2 separate regions of the Homo sapiens genome follow, and region 1 is linked to region 2. Evidence: fine-mapped expression QTL. Tissue or cell type: whole blood. Region 2 holds a variant in brackets; the other region holds the start of a gene. All regions are shown on one strand. Distances are between the middles of the regions.

Region 1 (5,000 bases), 33 kb before region 2:
GAGGTGGGGAGGGAGTGGGAGTCCCAGGGGGTGTGCCTAGGGGAAGGCTCAGGTCACCGGGACCCTGGCTTCATCCCCTGAGTCCTTTGGCCACACCCCTGGCCCTGAAGACCCGGGGAGGCCCTGACTCTGTCCCTTGAACCTTCTGGCCATGCCTCTGCAATCCAGGTCCTGCCCTGTTGGTCCTGACCCTACTGGGGACACCTGCCTCCTCTGACACCACTCCCCAAGAGTCTACGGGGGTCCCTTCCTTTACAGCCTACATGGGAGGCTCTGACCCAATGCCCTTTAGGAGGTGGGCCTTTAGAAGAGACTCCCCAGCCTCATGGGAACCCCTCCCCCATGGCACTTAGAAGGGTCCCCACTAGTTTTTAGGGGACACCATCCTCTTTCCCAAGGGGCCCCCATCCCTACCAGACCCTTCCCCTGAGTCGCTTCCTCCATGGCCTCTGCAGGGGCCCCTCTCTCTGTCCCCATGGGCTGTGGTGTTGGTGTCTGGTTGGGCTGATAGCCAAGCCCTCCTTCTCTGCCAACTGCCTCTCCCTCCTTCCCCCTCTTCCCAGCCGGTCTGCCTCCCAGTTCTCCTCTTCCCTCCCCCAAGGCTACCCCCAGTCCCCAGCGCTTTAGGGCTCAACACAGTCACACCTGCTTGCATCCATTCTCCCAGCCCCATCTCACCTGTGAAAGCGCCCTATGGCTTCCCCCAGGCTGCATCCACGCCTGAAGACTCACAGCCGCTCCTGGCAGCCAGCAGGGCAGGGATGGTCACCCCCATTGTGCAGATGTGGAAACTGAGGCCCAGGCAGGCGAGGGTAGGCACTCTGGGTCCAGCACCCCAACCACGACACTCACTCTGCAGTGTGATATGGGGTGATGGTTGCCAGAGGTCCTAGATACCCAGAGTCACCCATGCTGTCACCCTTAGGAAGCACAACCCAGCCGCAGCCTCCATCCTGGCACCACACACACACACACACACACACACACACAACCATGGCATAGCGTTCACCCATCCCACAGTGAAGACCGAGCACCTGCCGACTTCCAGGCGCTGTGCTGGGCGCCACTTTGCAGTAAACAAGAGGGGCCCCCTTGTTCAGACAGGTGTCCAACACACACAACACATGTCACTGCATACTCACACACAGTGGGCTCATAGCCTGTCAGAGACACCAAACAGATCAAACAAGTCCCCACCCCCACCCCAGGCCAAACAGAGAGAGACATGTCAGGAGACCCTACACACATCACAGTCCCACACAAGCCCCCACACCGCTACAGTCAGGGACACACAGTCAGGCCTGCAACACACTTAAGAGTCACAGAAAAGAGTCACCGCACACAATGGGGGTCACAGAACTCATCACAGCGTCACACCCCCAATTACAAGGCACTCAGCGACAGCCACACACACACTAACAGTCTCTTATTCACACCAACAGTCACAGGGGAGAGACAAGGTGCCATCTACAACCACATGGCCACATCCATGGACCATGACACAGACTCACAATGCCACACAAGAAAGGTGCACAGCGCACGACCACAGCCACACACACATACACACCATCAGAATGAACACACAACAGGAGCCACACAATGACAGTCCTATGCACACAACCACACGAACACCAAGACAGTCACACACAGAGACAGCAGCCACACGGGGGGCCAATGGCAGTCACAGCATAGCCAGACACACACACACAAACCATCAGAGTGACACCCACAACGACAGCCGCACAATGACAGTGACACACACACACACACACCCGCGGACCTCCCGAAACCACACAATCCCAGTCATGCAGCCACACGATGACAGTTACACAACCACACACAGACACACAATGACAACCACACAATCACAGTTACCCACAGCCGCCCTCACCACCGGTGCTGGCTCCTCGGCCCGGGGTCCCCTCCCCCAGCCCGGTCCCCTCCCCCAGCTCGCCGCCTCCCCTCCCCCGCCCCTCCCCGCGCTGGACCCAGAGGGACCCAACCCTCAGGAACCGGAGACCGACACCGGGGGTGGGAAGCCCACGGGAGGGGATGAGGGGCGCCCCCACCCCCTCCTCTCACCGCGTCGAGGCCGCCGCCGCCTGAGCCCCCGCTCCGCCTAGACTGCCCCGGCGCGGCGGGATGGACAGACGGACTGCCAGCCAGGCTGGCAGACGCGAAGACCGAGACGCGGTCGGCCGGGCCTGGCCGCGCCGCGCAGACTCCGAGGTGGAGGGAGGGGCGGGGCCTCCGGGCGTCTCATTTGCATAGCCCCGTGGGGCGGGGCCTCCGTGATCTTGGAGGCGGGGCGTGTTAGCATCGATTGTAGGAAGGAACCAAGAATGGAAGTAGAGAGGGAGGACCCTGGGGTGGGCGGGGCTCCGAGGGTAATAGGAGGGAGGGGCTTCAGAGTATGTCCCTGGGCCGCGCCTCTCCCTCTCTGGGCCTCAGTTTCCCCATTCGCCAGGGCCCCCCAGAAAGGAAGGCTCTGTGGCCAGTGTGGAAGTCTGTCTGGCTGCTCGTGTCTGGACAGAATGACTCCTTGCCTTGTCATATATTAAATCTGGCTTCAGATGTCCCCTGATTCCAAGCCCACACATCCCGAATGACCCCTGGGGTCTCTACACCCCTCCCCCCCAACAATGAGGGGTAAACTAGGAGGGCAGGGGGATTCCTAGGCACAGGAAGCAGCAAGACTAACAGTCGGGGCTAGAGGAGGGTCTGGGCTAGTTTATTTTCTCTCTGGAGGGGTCTTCAGGGAGAGCAGTCCCGGCTGCTCAAGCTGTGGAGAGAGAGGGTGGGTCAGGGCCTGGCCAGGTCCAGGGGACTCCGGGGCTGCAGGTCAGGGACCGCATGCCCAGATCAGGATCTGGGCCTGTTCTGAGGGTCTAGACTGTGGGAGTCAAGGGCAGGTCAGGAGGGAAATGGGTGGAGGGGGGGACTGGGGAGGATCTGCACCGGGTGGGAAGGAGCGGCCGCTCTTGCTGAAAGGTGGCTGGGAGAGGTCCTGGTCACAGTCGGAGTCAGAGTCCCAGGAGGGGAGTGGAGGGCTCAGGCACTGGTGCCCCTTGTGGCCTGCAGGAGGGACAGGTTCCCTGAATGTGACCCTCAAGTAACCCCCAAATATAGGCCCTGTGTCCCTTCATAGTATACCTCATTGATACTTAAACCATGACCCCCAATTCCCTTGAATGTGATCCAGTGTGACACCAAATTATGACTTCAATGACCCTTGCATTTTACCCAATTGACACTTTTTTTTTTAGAGATGGGGTCTCGCTCTGTTGCCCAGACTGGAGTGCAGTGGCACGATTATGGCTCACTGCAGCCTCAACCTCGCAGGCTCAAGCGATCCTCCTGTCTCAGCCTCCTGAGTAGCTGAGACTACAGGTGTGCTCAGCCACAGGTGCACCATCACCCAGCTAGTTTTTAAATTTTTTGGAGAGATGGGGTCTCACTGTGTTGCCCAGGCTGGTCTCAAACTCCTAGACTCAAGTAATCCTCCCACCTCAGCCTCCCAAAATATTAGGATTACAGGCATGAGCCACTGTGTGGAGTCCCCATGGACTCATATAAGATCCAAGTGACTCTGAATGTGACCATGAATGACTCCTGGATGAAACCTCCAGTGACTCCTTAATGTGACCCCAGAACACTACTTAATGTGACCATAGAATAACACCCATCAGATGTGACTCCCAAATAGGCTCTCTGAACATAGCCTCCCTGTGAAGCTAGACAATGACCTCCCACCCCTGAGCAATTCTCAGCCTCCCTCACCTCTTAGGCTCGAGGCCTTGGGACAGGCCCCCGAGCACAAAGTGAGGCTGTCTATGGAGTTCTGCAGCACGTGCACAGCAGACCTGCAAGAAGACAAGGAGCTGGGGGCGCTGGGAGACTCCACACTGCTCAGGGTGTAGACAGCAGTACAGCTAAGGTTGGGGGCCGTGGTGGGGTGAGTCCTAGGGGGTGAGGGAAGTCTGGACTCAGGTGGGCTCCAGGTTCTGGTGGTCACTGCCAGATCCCGTTGGGGGAACGGGTTCAGAGGAGGGTCAGGGGTCAGACTGCAGGCTGGGCATCACCATATATCACTCAGTTCCTTCTGGAGGTCATCCTTCCAGCAGCCACTGGCTCCCTGCGGTATCTCTTCAGTCTCCGGACAGGCGGCTGTCTCATGACCCTGCTGCTTCATCTTGGTCAGGATCTGGGGTGGGGAGGGATGAGAGAACAGCAGTCATAATAATAATGACAATAGTGCCAGGCGCGGTGGCTCACACCTGTAATCCCAGCACTTTGGGAGGCCGAGGCGGGCAGATCACGAGGTCAGGAGATTGAGACCATCCTGGCTAACACAGTGAAACCGCATCTCTACTAAAAATACAAAAAGTTAGCCGGGCGTGGTGGCGGGCGCCTGTTGTCCCAGCTACTCGAGAGGCTGAGGCAGGAGAATTGCTTGAACCCAGGAGGCAGAGGTTGCAGTGAGTTGAGATCGCGCCATTGCACTCCAGCCTGGGCAACAAGAGGGAAACTCCGTCTCAAAAAAGAAAACAAAATAAATAATAATAATGATAATAGTAAAAGGTGACTGTTATATAGCACTTGTTATATGCCAGACTGCATTCAAGTGCACAGTACTCAGCTAATACAGACACCTGATCAGGTAGGGAGGAGTGTTTTTTTTTGTTTTGTTTTTTGTTTTTGTTTTTGGTGTTTGTTTCTTTTTTGAGACAGGGTCTCAGTCTGTCGCCCAGGCTAGAGTGCAATGGTACTATCAGGGCTCAACGCACCCTGAACCTCCAAGGCTCAAGTGATCCCCCTACCTCAGCCTTCTGAGTAGCTAAGTCTACAGGCATGTGCCACCACACCCTCTTGTTTTTTTTGTTTTTTGTAGAGACAGGGTTTTGCCATGTTGCCTAGGCTGGTCTTGAACTTCTGGCCTCAAGCAATCCAACCACCTCAGCCTCCCAAAGTGCTGAGATAACAGGCATGCCACAGCACCC
Region 2 (5,341 bases):
GCCTTTTCCCATTGTAGAAGGGACAGGGAGTCAGATCCCCTCAACCCCCCGGCTTCAGGGACCCCAGAAGTGCCTTCCAAGCTTCCCCCAAGATCCACATCACCCACGACCCTGCCACTGTTTTTGCTGTGTTCACCACATCTCTGATCCTGAAGTGAATTCTGGAACTATGGACCACATTAGACTGGGCAGAGATTCGCCCAACCCCTAGCACTCCGGCTCTGGGCTTTCGGCCAGAAGTTAATTAACCTCAGAGCCAGGAGCCTGGGGCTGGGGCCTCCCTCCCAGGCCCTGTTTAGCTGTTTAGCTGGTTGTGTTTTAAGCAAGTTCTTGCCCAATCATGCATCCTGCTAGAAAAGGAAATGAAGCAACGTTCCCAGCCACCGCAGGCAGTTGTCGGCGACTTTCTGATGTAAGCACCTGGGCTCCGACTTGAGGGGGGCCCTTCAAGACCCAATGTCCATTTCCCAATCCTTGTCATCGGCAGGGCCCAGGGATGTGACAATTTTTGCTAATGGAGGAGTCACTTCTTTTTTTTTTTTTTTCTTTTTGAGATGGTCTGGCTCTGTCACCCAGGCTGGAGTGCAGTGGTGCAATCATAGCTCACCACAGCCTCAAACTAGGGGTCACTTCTAAGGGATGCTGGGGGTTGGGCGGAAGGGGTGAGGAGGTAGGATTGAGTAACTTGCTGTCACTGCTTGTACTTTGTAGACAGCCTGAGAGTGGCAGGACCTTATGTGAATGGGGGGGATGGACTGTGATCAGTGCCGGGGAGTCTCTGAAGCTGGGGTCCCCACCTCCAGGGGCTTCTGCTCAGAGGTTACGTGTGCAGTTTGAAGATGTACATCTTGACCTCCGGTTTAGAGGCACTTTCTGCCCATCAGATTCCAAACTCTAGGGGCGCAGCACCTTTTCTTTGCTCCCAAACACCAACCAACACCCCTTCACAGGACCAGCACTGTTAGGATGGCTAAGTGGATGTTTTATGTTCCCACGTCCCTGACTCTGTTTCAGAGGTTGTGTCTGCTCTCCCAGCCCCTGAAGCCAAAATGACTTCCTGCAGCTTTCATGAGCTCAGCCTCTTCCCTGGGGTATGTGTGAGGGGGAAAGCCTGGTTCAAGTTTAGATTTATTTCTAGGGAGCCCTGGTTTCTTCATACCAGAGGCTACCCTTAGAACTTTGGAGTGGGGTATCTTTTTTTCATTTGTTTTTTTGATACAGAGTCTCGCTCTATTGCCCAGGCTGGAGTGCGGTGGCACAATCTCAGCTTACTGCAACCTCCACCTCCAGGGTTCAAGCGATTCTCCTGCCTCAGCCTCCCGAGTAGCTGGCATTACAGGCACCTGCCACCACACCCGGCTAAATTTTGTATTTTTAGTAGAGAAGGGGTTTCACCATGTTGGTGAGGCTTGTCTCAAACTGACTTCAAGTGATCCACTTGCTTCGGCCTCCCAAAGTGCTGGGATTACAGGCGTGAGCCATCACGCCCAGCCGAGGGTATCTTTTATACCAACAAATTAGATGACTGAGGTGTAATGGACAAATCCTATGCACAAAGTGAGGGTATCTGAATATGTGGGCGGGAGTCAAAAATTTTTAGCTACTTTAACACTAAAGTCAAACTAAAGTAGCTTCAAAAAGACTTCTCAAGATGCAGTATGGCCTGCTGAGGTTTTTTTGTTTTTTTTTTTTTTAAGACAGAGAGTCGCTCGTCGCCCAGGCCGCAGTGCAGTAGCATGATCTCAGCTCACTGCAACCTCCACCTCCCGGGTTCAAGCGATTCTCCTGTCTCAGCCTCCTAAGTAGCTGGGACTACAGGCACCTGCCACCACGCCCATCTAAGTTTTGCATTTTTAGTAGCGACGGTTTCACCTTGTTGGCCAGGCTGGTTTTGTTGGCCAATTGTCTCTAAACTGCTGTCAAAAAAAGGAATGGATCAGATTGTCTTGAATAGGGCAGAGCTAACCTGTAATCACCTGTGTGATGAGAAACAGCTTTGACTGCATTTTACTCCTGACCTGGCCTAAGCTTTCTGTTTACATAAGATTTTTCAAGAATTCAACTTCAAGTAGCAGCCGAGAGAGCTGCCTCAGGATTCTCTCAAAAACTGGGAATAATATGGGAACATTTGTTTCTTCTAAAAATAAGGCAAATGTTACATTGAATGATTTGGGGGGTGAGGTTTAATTGGAAATGGTCTCTGGGGACTGAAAACTGATGTTTTTGCAGATTACCTCAGGGAAACGGAGGTTTGTTGAGTTTACAGACACATTAAACCAAAGGCCGTGGGAAAACCCCTCTCCAGCTCCAGGGGATTGGTCAGGACCACCCACTAACCAGTGCCTTCCTTCTTAACATTCACTTTTAGCAGCTTGTGTTTATTTTACATGGGCAGTTTTGATGGGAAATTGCCATGACCACAGGGGTTTGGAGTTCTGCTTTTTTTTTTTCTTCTT[CTTT/T]TTCGGGGGACTGGGGGACTCCTCCCAAGATCACATTTTAGCATCTTTCTCTCCTACTCCATTTAGAAAAATAAGTAACAGGTGAAATGTGGTCTCAGTGTTAACGGGATAATTCTGCTACCGGCTCCTCCCTGATGATTCTGAAATACACTACTGAACGAGCTCTGGCTGGTCCTTTCTATCCTGGATGTGGTTCTTCTGTGTAGCAATTCCTTGATGTCCAGTTTGGAAAGATGTACTCTTCTCAACAAGAAAAACTTAAATCCGTCGTGCCCAAATATAGTTGTGCTTTTATTTCCATTAGTGAAGTGCGTTTCTGGGAAAGGGGGTTTGATTTGCAACTAAGCAGATATCAGTCAAGGGCTCTTCAAGACACAGCAGAAACCTCACCGGGCCTCGGGCTGCCTCCCACTGGGTCCCATGGCCACCACCTTGACCTTGGAAAGCTCTGTTATATGGAAGGTAGGGAGGACACTATTTCCCTCAACTACTTCTAGTAAAAAGCTCAGTTCTCTCCCCAGCAGCAAGAGGGCACCTGTGAACACCTGAGTCACAGCGCATTCCTCCTCTGCTTAGAACATTCGATGGCTCCCACCTTACTTGCAGTAAATGCTGAGGTCCTTCCTGTGGCCCCCGGGGCCCTGCATGATCTGATCCATCCCTTCCCTACCCTCATCTCTCCACTGGCCTCCCCACACTTGCTCCCCTCCGGCCACTCTGGCCTACTTGCTGCTATCTGAACATACCAGGCCCCTGCCCCAAGGCCTTTGCCCAGAATGTTCCCCCTGCCTCTGCCTGGATGGCCCTTACCCAAGGTAGTCACAGTTGATATGGTTTGGCTTTGTGTCCCCACCCAAATCTCATCTGGAATTGTAATCCCCATAATCCTCACGTGTCAAGGGAGAGACCAGGTGGAGGTCATTGAATCCTGGGGGCGGTTCCCCCATGCTGTTCTCCTGATAGCAAGTGAGTTCTCACGAGATCTGATGGTTTTATAAGGGATTCTTCCGCCTTCTCTCGGCTCTTCTCCTTCCTGCCACCTTGTGAAGAAGGTATCTGGCTTCCCCTTTGCCTTCTGTTATAATTGTAAATTTCCTGAGGCCTCCCCAGCCATGTTGAACTGTGAGTAAATTAAACCTCTTATGTTTTTTTGGGTATTTTTTTGTTTTTTTTTTTTTGAGACTCAGTCCTACTCTGCCACCCAGCTGGAGTGCAGTGGTGCCATCTTGGCTCACTGCAACCTCCGCCTCCCAGGTTCAAGCAATTCTCCTGCCTCAGCCTCCCGAGTAGCTGGGATTACAGGCACACTCCACTACGCCTGGCTAATTTTTGTGTTTTTAGTAGAGACGGGGTTTCACCACGTTGGCCAGGCTGGTCTCGAACGCCTGACCTCATGATCTGCCCACCTTGGCCTCCCAAAATGCTGGGATTACAGGCGTGAACCACCGTACACGGGCAAACCTCTTTCCTTTATAAATTACCCAGTCTTGGGCAGTTCTTTCCAGCAGTAGGAAAACAGACTAATACAACAAAGCTCCCCTAACTGAACTTCCTCTTTTGGGCTACTGTGCAAATCTCACTTTCTCACTGCCCCCTCCCCTGATTTAGTACTGCAATCTCCCTCCCCAGCATTTCTTTTTTCTTTTTCTTTTCTTTTCTTTTTTTTTTTTTTGGAGACAAGGTCTTGCCGTATGGCCCTGGCTGGAGTGCAGTGGCACAATCATGGCTCACTGCAGCCTCGAACTCCTGGACTCAAAGGATCCTCCCACTTCAGCCTCCTGAGTTTCTGGAACTACAAGCAAGCACCACCACATCCAGCTGATTGAGTGATTGAGAGATGGGATCTTGCTATGTTGCCCAGGCTGGTCTTGAACTCCCAGCTTCCAGCCATGCTCCCGCCTTGGCCTCCCAAAGTGCTAGGATTGGCCAGGTGTGGTGGCTCATGCCTGTCATTCCAGCACTTTGGGAGGCTGAGGCAGGAGGATCACTTGAGGTCAGGAGTTTGAGATCAGCCTGGCCAACATGACAAAACCCCATCTCTACTAAAAATATAACAAATAGCTGGGCCTGGTGGCACATGCCTGTAATCCCAGCTACTCGGGAGGCTGAGGCGGGAGAATCGCTTGAACAAGTGGGGCAGAAGTTGGGGTGTGCCGAGATCGTGCCATTGCACTCCAGCCTGGATGACAAGAGAGAAACTCCGTCTCAAAAAAAAAAAAAAAAGTCCTGGCCGGGCGTAGTGGCTCAGGCCTGTAATCCCAGCACCTTGGGAGGCGGAGGCGGGCAGGTCACGAGGTCAAGAGATCGAGATCATCCTGGCTAACACGGTAAGACCCCGTCTCCACTGAAAATACAACAAAAAAATTAGCCGGGCGTGGTGGCGGGCGCCTGTAGTCCCAGCTACGCGGGAGGCTGAGGCAGGAGAATGGCGTGAACCCGGGAGGTGGAGCTTGCAGTGAGCCAAGATCGCGTCACTGCATTCCAGCCTGGGCGACAGAGCGAGACTCCGTCTCAAAAAACAAAACAAAACAAAACAAAATACAACCTAAATGACAGGTTTGGAGAGCTTCTGAGTTGATGAACACATGGAGGTGCTGGAAGGGTGGTGCCCCCCTCCCCAAGAAAGGGTGTGGAAGTGCTGCACACCATCCCCCACACATTGCCCTCTTTATCACTTCCATTTGGCTGTTCCTGAGTTGTCTCCTTTTTTTGTTTTTTTGTTTTGTTTTGTTTTGTTTTGTTTGTTTTGAGACAGAGTCTCGCTCTGTCGCCCAGGCTGGAGTGCAGTGGCGCGATCTCGGCTCACTGCAAGCTCCGCCTCCCGGTTCAAGCGATTCTTCTGCCTCAGCCTCCGGAGTAGCTGGGATTACAGGGCGTGTGCC

Evidence for each region. PIP is the estimated chance that this variant, and not a neighbour inherited with it, causes the effect.
Region 1: PLPPR2 starts here. The variant in region 2 is fine-mapped to the expression of PLPPR2 in whole blood (INTERVAL, PIP above 0.99).

Annotation. Positions count from the first base shown.
Region 1 is chr19:11,352,655-11,357,654 of GRCh38, reverse strand. It overlaps PLPPR2 (phospholipid phosphatase related 2), which reads right to left and starts at 2,223. Exons shown (of 10, transcript NM_001393892.1): 1 at 2,083-2,223; 2 at 679-853. It overlaps CCDC159 (coiled-coil domain containing 159), which reads right to left. Exons shown (of 11, transcript NM_001080503.3): 8 at 4,083-4,204; 9 at 3,781-3,863; 10 at 2,959-3,075; 11 at 2,711-2,782. The coding sequence ends at 2,778. RefSeq lists an enhancer at 370-1,311 and a silencer at 1,954-2,403.
Region 2 is chr19:11,319,464-11,324,804 of GRCh38, reverse strand. It overlaps RAB3D (RAB3D, member RAS oncogene family), which reads left to right. Exons shown (of 5, transcript NM_004283.4): 5 at 1-2,737. TSPAN16-AS1 (TSPAN16 antisense RNA 1) reads left to right here and starts at 3,480. Exons shown (of 3, transcript NR_187778.1): 1 at 3,480-3,581. It also overlaps a transcript of TSPAN16 not described here. RefSeq lists an enhancer at 348-557. The variant CTTT/T (reference allele first, on the strand shown) is at 2,457.